Homo sapiens: one gene and its partner. The protein of the gene in region 1 purifies or fractionates together with the protein of each later gene. This does not show direct contact. Each region holds a gene or a part of one and is shown in the gene's direction. Other genes may lie near its edges. The genes, in order: CCR3 and FGR.

Region 1 (4,188 bases):
TAAGGTGGAAACTGAGCCCCTTCCTCCCTTTCTTCTCTTTCTCTCAAATTCTCTCCCTATTCTTTCTCTCTCTCTCTAATGCACATGTGTGTGCGCTCTCTCTCTCTCTCTGTCTCTCTTATCCTCCTTCCTCTTTCTTTGTCTTTTGTTCCTATGTTTTCTTTATCATGAAGCATACAGCACAGTCCTACACACATATCAAACGTTTGATAAACACTTTGGTGCATTACACTCATTTGTCGAGTTAGTCAGTGTATCAAAGATCACTTCATGCTTAGTCAGAGTTCTTCCCACAAATATTGGGTGAATACCTGCTCTGTGCCCAGTGCCATGCTAGGTCCCAAGGGACACATCAGCACATACAGCAGGCACATGGCTCTGCCCTGTGACGCTTTGCCCTGAGACATGGCTCTGCCCTATGACGCTTATGTCACAGTGGCATTCTACCCACACTTTACATTTCCTTAGCCCTGTATATTCTGCAGAGACTTTTCACATATTTATCTTAGTTGGTTCCACGGCAATGCTATGACTTAAATATCATTATTTCCAGTTTAGAGATGAAAAAGCTGAGGTCCAGCAAGTTTAAATTACTACCCCCAGCTTATGTAGCTGTGTATGCCACAACTGAAACTCAAACTCAAGTCTTTTAGACTTGTCTAAACCTTTGCAGCCACATTTTGCCCCATCCAAGTGTCTACTGGACCCTGCAGAATAATTAGTTTATTCCTTTGCCGGGAAATTCTTATTTCATTCTTCATCCTGTCTCCCGATGAGTCAAATCAATGCTTATTCAAGAATTATAAATCCCAGGTCTTTAGGAGGCCGAGACTCGCAGATCACTTGAGGTCAGAAGTTTGAGACCAGCCTGGCCAACATGGTGAAACCCTGTCTCTACTAAAAATACAAAAATTAGCCAGGCATGGTGGCATGTGCCTCTAATACCAACTATTCCAGAGGCTGAGGCAGGAAAATCCCTTGAACCCAGGAGGTGGAGGTTGCAGTGAACTGAGATCATGCCACTGTACTCCAGCCTGGGTGACAGAATGAAATCCTGTCTTAAAAAAAAAAAAAAAATTATAACAACCCCCCACCACTAAAAATGAGCAATGCCAATGGGTGGAGAGCCCCTAAAGCAGCACTAATTGCAAGGATTTCTCAGGTGACTGGTTAGTATGTGGTGTCAATCATGAAAAAGAAGAACTGCACGAAAGTATCTTTCTGAAAACTTGCAAAACTGAGAAGCTAGTCTGTTTAAAACAGGAAGTTATATACTTACATTGTTTACTACTTTACTAATGTCTGTGATCTGATGGTATCTCTGTTTCAGGAGTGGTGACGCCTAAGCTATCACTGGACATATCAAGGACTTCACTAAATTAGCAGGTACCACTGGTCTTCTTGTGCTTATCCGGGCAAGAACTTATCGAAATACAATAGAAGTTTTTACTTAGAAGAGATTTTCAGGTAGGTGTCGCTTTTCCAGGAAAAGGGAGGTGGAACAAGGAGGGGTCCAGGCAGGTGGAAGTAGTAACTTCCAGCAGTGCTCTTGGATCTAGGAGGGAGGAGAGGAAGGTACACAGCAATTTAGAGGTAGTATGGGGCCAGAGTGGGAGAAAATATGGCCACATATCTCCATTTTCTTCTTGCTTTTTCTAATTTTCCCTTTCTGTCTCCCATCCACACAATGATAAGTTTGCGTGTAGCACTCACCCAAACTTGGCCCTTTATACCTCTTTAGTCAACATCTGTGCCCATGTTACCCTCCTATACTTTCACAAATTCTCAACTATGTGCATATGACTACTCCAAAGAGCTTACACTTAATAGCTTGTGTTTATTTATATTGACTTGTAAGAAATAGCAAAAATATAATTTTACATATATATGTGTATATATATATATATACACATATATATATATATATATATACGCACACACACATACATTTTTATATATACAAAGTCCTCCCTCAGTATCTGTGAGGGATTTGTTCCAGGACCCTTGCAGATACCAAAATTCATAGATGCTCAAGTTCCTTATATAAAATGATGTAGTATTTGCTGATAACCTACAAATATCCTCCAGTACCCTTTAAATACAAGTACCTAGATTACTTGTAATACCTAATACAACGCATACAGAGCGCTTCATTCATGTGGAGTCAACATAGCACTTGCTGCGTGGCAAATTCAAGGCTTGGTTTTTGCAACTTTGTGGAGCTTTTTCCCAGATATTTTTGATCCGTGATTGGTTGAATACACAAATGTGGAACCCATGGATACAGAGGGCTGATTATATACATATGTGTGTGTGCATTAAGTATGTATGTGTGGAAATATATATATTTATTTGAAGTTTTCATTGAAAATCCACACTAAATCAAGCTACTAGATGAGTCAGTTGATTGATTTGGTGTCTTTTTTTCTGGGTGAATGAGATTGTCTGTGTTAGAGGGTAGAGCTAGAAAGCCTTACCGATTCTTCTGGAAACGCCTGGATTGACAGAGGATGAGTGTTAACTTTGACAAGTACTTCAAGTGAGAGTGGTGGGAATAAGGGGTCTTCCACATGGATGTGGTATAAGTTGAAGTATATTTTTGAAGTGCAGCTCTTTCCAGAAAATGGTGATGATTACACTGAACCACGCAGGATGAGTTAGCTCTTCTGGGAGAAGAAATATGAGCCCTTTGTATGACTTAATAAGAAAAAAGCAGATCTGTACAGCAGAATAAATTGGGTAAAGGGCACAAAGAGATAAATCACAGGAAGGGAAATATGAATGACTAATACTTGTAGTTAAAAAAAATCAGTAATGAAATAAATGTTAATTACAACAATAATGGCAACCCTTTTGCCCATCTAATTGGCCAAGTAATTTTTTCTTTCTTTTAGATCTTCTCCATATTGATGGATGCTTGCTGAAATGGGCACCATCACCTACTAGTGCCAAGAGTATATATATTGTTACACACTTTCTGGAAGCAATTTGACAAAATGCATCAAGAGACTTCGAAATATAATTCAATGTAGAAATTGTGATTTGTGTAATATACCTTAAGGAAATAATTTTAAAATGCACACAAATATGTTTATTGCAGTATTATTTATAGCAGAGCAAATTGTGAATAACTTAATCACACAACAAAAAGGCAATGGTTAAATAAGCATGATTATCTATACAATATGTTGGAGTCATTACAAATTACATTTTTAAGTAATTTTTAGCCACAAGGAACTAGGTGAAAGGTAAAGAAGTTAAGGTATCAGAATACAAAATGATATACAAGTGTACTATCTTTCATGCGCGTCCGTGTGAAGAGACCACCAAACAGGCTTTGTGTGAGCAATAAAGCTTTTTAATCACCTGGGTGCAGGCAGGCTGAGTCCGAAAAGAGTCAGCGAAGGGAGATAAGGGTGGGGCCGTTTTATAGGATTTGGGTAGATAAAGGAAAATTACAGTCAAAGGGGACTTGTTCTCTGGCGGGCAGGAGTGGGGGTCACAAGGTGCTCAGTGGGGGAGCTTTTTGAGCCAGGATGAGCCAGGAAAAGGGACTTTCACAAGGTAATGTCATCACTTAAGGCAAGGACCAGCCATTTTCACTTCTTTTGTGGTGGAATGTCATCAGTTAAGGCGGGGCAGGGCATTTTCACTTCTTTTGTGATTCTTCAGTTACTTCAGGCCATCTGGGCATATATGTGCAAGTCACAGGGGATGTGATGGCTTGGCTTGGGCTCAGAGGCCTGACACTGTCAATTATAACATACATGGTACCTGGAAAGGCAGTGGCTCTCTCTCCATAGCACAGTTGGAGGTGGAAGCACTGGGTCCCAGAAAGCTGAAATTCTGGTCATGGTGACTATCCCACAACCATGTTATTTGGAATGTATATGCATACTTTCCTTGTGAAAACATATTCTTCATGACCAACTCCTTCAATAATCCAAAATCATTTGGCTGGTGGGCGAAACCCTGTCACTTAAGATGAACTGACCGCACTCAGACACAATTCTGAAAGACACAAGCATGAGGTGTAACTTTTGCATTAGTAACTATTATTAATGATTGGAAGCTCTGGAAATCCATGTGCTGCCCTAAAATACCAATTCTGGGAAATGTTTGTGGCTGGAAAGAAGACTGCATTCATTCATGATTTGAACTTTGAGAGGCTCTTCTTGTGTATTTCCA
Region 2 (4,035 bases), on another chromosome or scaffold:
ACTCATGCAAATATATGCTGTGAGTGTTATTGTGTGACTGTGCTGGTGGGTCAGGTGAGTATGAGTGTGAAAGAGAGCTGGTGTGGGTGGTTTGCCCTATGTGACGGGGGTTGTGTAAGTGTGCCAGGGGTGATAGGAAGGAAAGTGAAGGCAGAAGTCATGCTGGGGCAGAGCCCAGGCCTTCTGGCTTCCTGAAGAGGGCAGGAGCTGGGCAGCTGCTGACAGAAACATTGGCAGAGACTTCATCTTCCTTGTCCTTCTGTCTCACCCTCAGGTCTCTGACCCCTCCCAAGGATCATGCCGCAGCCCCACTGACCCAGGAGTAGGGGCCTAAGGGGTGAGTGGGGTAGACTGAGGGCTTTCAGGGTCAGGAAACAGGGTGGGGGTGGCCTTCCTGAACCCCACAACTCCTCACAGCCTCCTCCTCCTACAAGGACCCTGTTGCTAGGTAACGGATGGGGGAGCCAGAATGAGGCAGCTTGAGAGGCTGAAGGCTGGACCCACGACAGGAAATGGCCTTGATCCCCCTCTGCAGTGACTCTCCAGGTGCAGACACACAGCCTCACACACACTCACACACAAACATGCGCAGATATATAGACATACATGCAGAGATACACACATCCAGAGACAGGCACACTGCTCCCACACAGAGATAGGTGCACATTCATAGACACACAGACACAGAGACACCCACTCACACAGACAGGCACACACATACTCACACAGAAACACATGCACACAAACACGGTCTTACAGACATATACACATGCAGCCAAACACATACACAGAGACTTTTATACACTCTCGTATACACACAAACCTGCACACACAGACAGACATCCACAAAGAGCTGCACACACATGCATACCCACACAGGCAAACTCACCCATACTTAGAGACACACAAAGACGCACATGTACAAGCACACTGAAAGAGTCACAGAAACACAACATATCAAAGCAATAGGACCCAACCTGAGCAATATAGCAAGACCTTGTCTCTACTAAAAATCAAACAAATTAGCCAGGGGTACTGGCACGCACCTGTATAGTCCCAGTTCTTGGGAGGCTGAGACCAGAGGATCACTTGAGCCCAGGAGATCAAGGCTGCAGCAAGCTATGATTGTGCCACTGCACTCCAGCCTGGGCAACAGAGTGAGATCTTGTCTCAAAACAAAACAAAAAAAGCAAAGCAATAGGAGGCAAAAATATGCAAATAAGCATAGCAATATCCCAATGTAGAAAGCCAGCCCCAGAGATATAGACATGAGCCAATGGGAAGAGAAGCACTGAGGGGGGACATACTGTGAGGCAGACTGAACGGTACAGTAGGTGGCCCAGTTCCGCCTTTATCCCTTACAGGGAGGACCCCAATCTAGGCCCAAGAGGGAAAGCCACGTGCCTGTATGAGCGTATGAGCATGTGCATGCGCGTGTGTGCACAGGGTGGTGCACCTGGCAGGGGTCCTTGAGTGAGGCATGCCCCATTCTGTAGCAGGGAACCTGGAATGGGCTGTGTGTTCTGCAAGAAATTGGAGCCGGTGGCCACGGCCAAGGAGGATGCTGGCCTGGAAGGGGACTTCAGAAGCTACGGGGCAGCAGACCACTATGGGCCTGACCCCACTAAGGCCCGGCCTGCATCCTCATTTGCCCACATCCCCAACTACAGCAACTTCTCCTCTCAGGCCATCAACCCTGGCTTCCTTGATAGTGGCACCATCAGGGGTGTGTCAGGTGAGTCCAAGGGGTCGGAGGCAGGAGCTGCCTGGATCCTGGGAGAAACTGAGGGAAGAAGAAGAGATGCGAACTTGCCCTTAGGAGCCTCCAGGAGGATGTGGCAGATACAACCCCGCTTTCAAGATCACATGGGCTGAGGGAGTCTGTACAGCCCTCCCATCAGAAACCACAGTCTGCAGGGGAGGGTCAAGAAGCTCTACTCCCAGTCTGAGAGGGGCAGGATCCTGTGACAGATGCAAGTGACAAAGAGAAACTTCTTGCCCTTTTAGGTGCCACTTCCCAGATGGGAAGTCTTCTTGGTGGGGAAGAGGAGGAGTGGGCAACAAGGGGATCCTCCATGGTGGGAGGAATGGGCTTGAAGTTGTGTGTCCTAAGCTGTGGAGACCAAATCAGAAATTCCTTGGACCCCAAAGGCCTTTGGGAACCAGAGCACTAAAGGAGTGGGGAGGTGCAGCACCTGGCTGGGGAACAGGAATTTGGGGTGCAGCCCCCTTGGTGCTTCTGCCCCATGCCCTACCCTGCTGAGTAGCCCTGACTCTGCAGGGATTGGGGTGACCCTGTTCATTGCCCTGTATGACTATGAGGCTCGAACTGAGGATGACCTCACCTTCACCAAGGGCGAGAAGTTCCACATCCTGAACAATACGTAAGTGACCAGGCCACCTAGTCAGAACATTGCCTGGGCTGGGAGCAGGACACAGACAGGAATCCCACCTGGTCCCTAGCCTCAGAATGCTCCAGCCTAGTTGGGAACACATATACATAACAATAAAAACCCTGGGTGACTGCAACTGTGTGCTGGTTGAGGGGGGTGGTGTTGGGCCACTGCACCCGGCCTGGAGGAGATGATTTTTAAGCTGAGGCTATAAAAATGAAATAGACGGCCGGGTGCAGTGGCTCATGCCTGTAATCCCAGCACTTTGGGAGGCCAAGGCGGGTGGATCACCTGAGGTCAGGAGTTCGAGACCAGCCTGGCCAACATGGTGAAACCCTGTCTCTATTAAAAATACAAAAATTAGCAGGGCATGGTGGCGCATGCCTGTAATCCCAGCTACTTGAGAGGCTGAGGCAGAAGAATCACTTGAACCCGGGAGGCAGAGGTTGCAGTGAGCTGAGATTGCACCACTGCACTCCAGCCTAGGCAACAGAGGGAGACTCCATTTCAAAAAAATAAATAAATAATTAAAAAATAAAAAATAAAAATGAATAGACAGTGAAGGAAGAGGTAAGAAAAGAGGAAGAGAGTGAGAGAGAATGAGAATAAATGATGACTTCTGGAAACCACAAAGTGGTTCACCTTAGGTGGTTCATAAAATATGGGATGCAGAATGGGAGAGAACAGAGGCTAGAGAGGTAGGCAGAGGCAGATTCTGCCAGGCTTTTTTTTTTTTTTTTTTTTGAGTTGGAGTCTCGCTCTGTCTCCCGGGCTGGAGTGCAGTGGTGCAATCTTGGCTCACTGTAACCCCCGCCTCCTGGGTTCCAGTGATCCTGGGACTACAGGCAAGAGCCACCAAGCCTGGCTAATTTTTTGTATTTTCAGTAAAGATAGGGTTTCACCATGTTGGCCAGGATGGTCTCGAACTCCTGACCTCAGGAGATCTGCCTGCCTGGGCCTCCCAAACTGCTGGAATTACAGGCATGAGCCACCACACCTGGTCTCTGTCAGGCTTTTTAAGCCACATTGAGAAGTCTAGATTTTATCCAGAAGGAAATCAGTAGCCATTTTCTGTGGGGAAGTGACCTAGTCAGCTGTCCTCTGAATTCCCAATCCCCAGCCCAACCCAGCTGGGGAGCCCAAGGAAGAAGCTAAGAGCCCTAAGTGCCCCCGAGCTTATTCCTTCTGCAGGGACAAGCCCTCCCAGGGAAGCTGCAGTGGCTGGGGCAGAGCGGACAAAAGCCCCAGTGGTGGGGGGTGTCCAAGATGAGGGTTTGGCAGGATTCATCTCTGCAGACCTGTGTGGCTCCACCTGGCCTCAGGGTGCCTTGGGGGCTGGAGGTGCTGCTGACCATGCCCTGTTCTGTGCCTACAGTGAAGGTGACTGGTGGGAGGCTCGGTCTCTCAGCTCCGGAAAAACTGGCTGCATTCCCAGCAACTACGTGGCCCCTGTTGACTCAATCCAAGCTGAAGAGTAAGTAGGGATTGGGGCAAGACCAGCCCTATGGACAGGACCCTGGAGTCCAGACTCCAAGGCCACCTCTTGGACAAGTCATTGCTCCAGTCCGAGCCTGTCTCCTTATCTAATAATTTTGTAAGGTCATTGTGAGAACAAAAGAAGATTGTACTGATAATAATAATA

Evidence for each region.
Region 2: the proteins of CCR3 (region 1) and FGR purify together in Homo sapiens (affinity purification with western blotting, with the first as the bait; one study listed by BioGRID). This does not show direct contact.

The regions. Positions count from the first base shown.
Region 1 is NC_000003.12:46,241,072-46,245,259, forward strand, and holds the start of CCR3 (C-C chemokine receptor type 3), read left to right. Parts: upstream 1-1,388; 5' UTR 1,389-1,467; intron 1,468-4,188.
Region 2 is NC_000001.11:27,621,391-27,625,425, reverse strand, and holds part of FGR (tyrosine-protein kinase Fgr), read left to right. Parts: intron 1-274; 5' UTR 275-337; intron 338-1,496; 5' UTR 1,497-1,509; coding exon 1,510-1,735; intron 1,736-2,281; coding exon 2,282-2,384; intron 2,385-3,768; coding exon 3,769-3,867; intron 3,868-4,035. UniProt on the Homo sapiens protein: Non-receptor tyrosine-protein kinase that transmits signals from cell surface receptors devoid of kinase activity and contributes to the regulation of immune responses, including neutrophil, monocyte, macrophage and mast cell functions, cytoskeleton remodeling in response to extracellular stimuli, phagocytosis, cell adhesion and migration.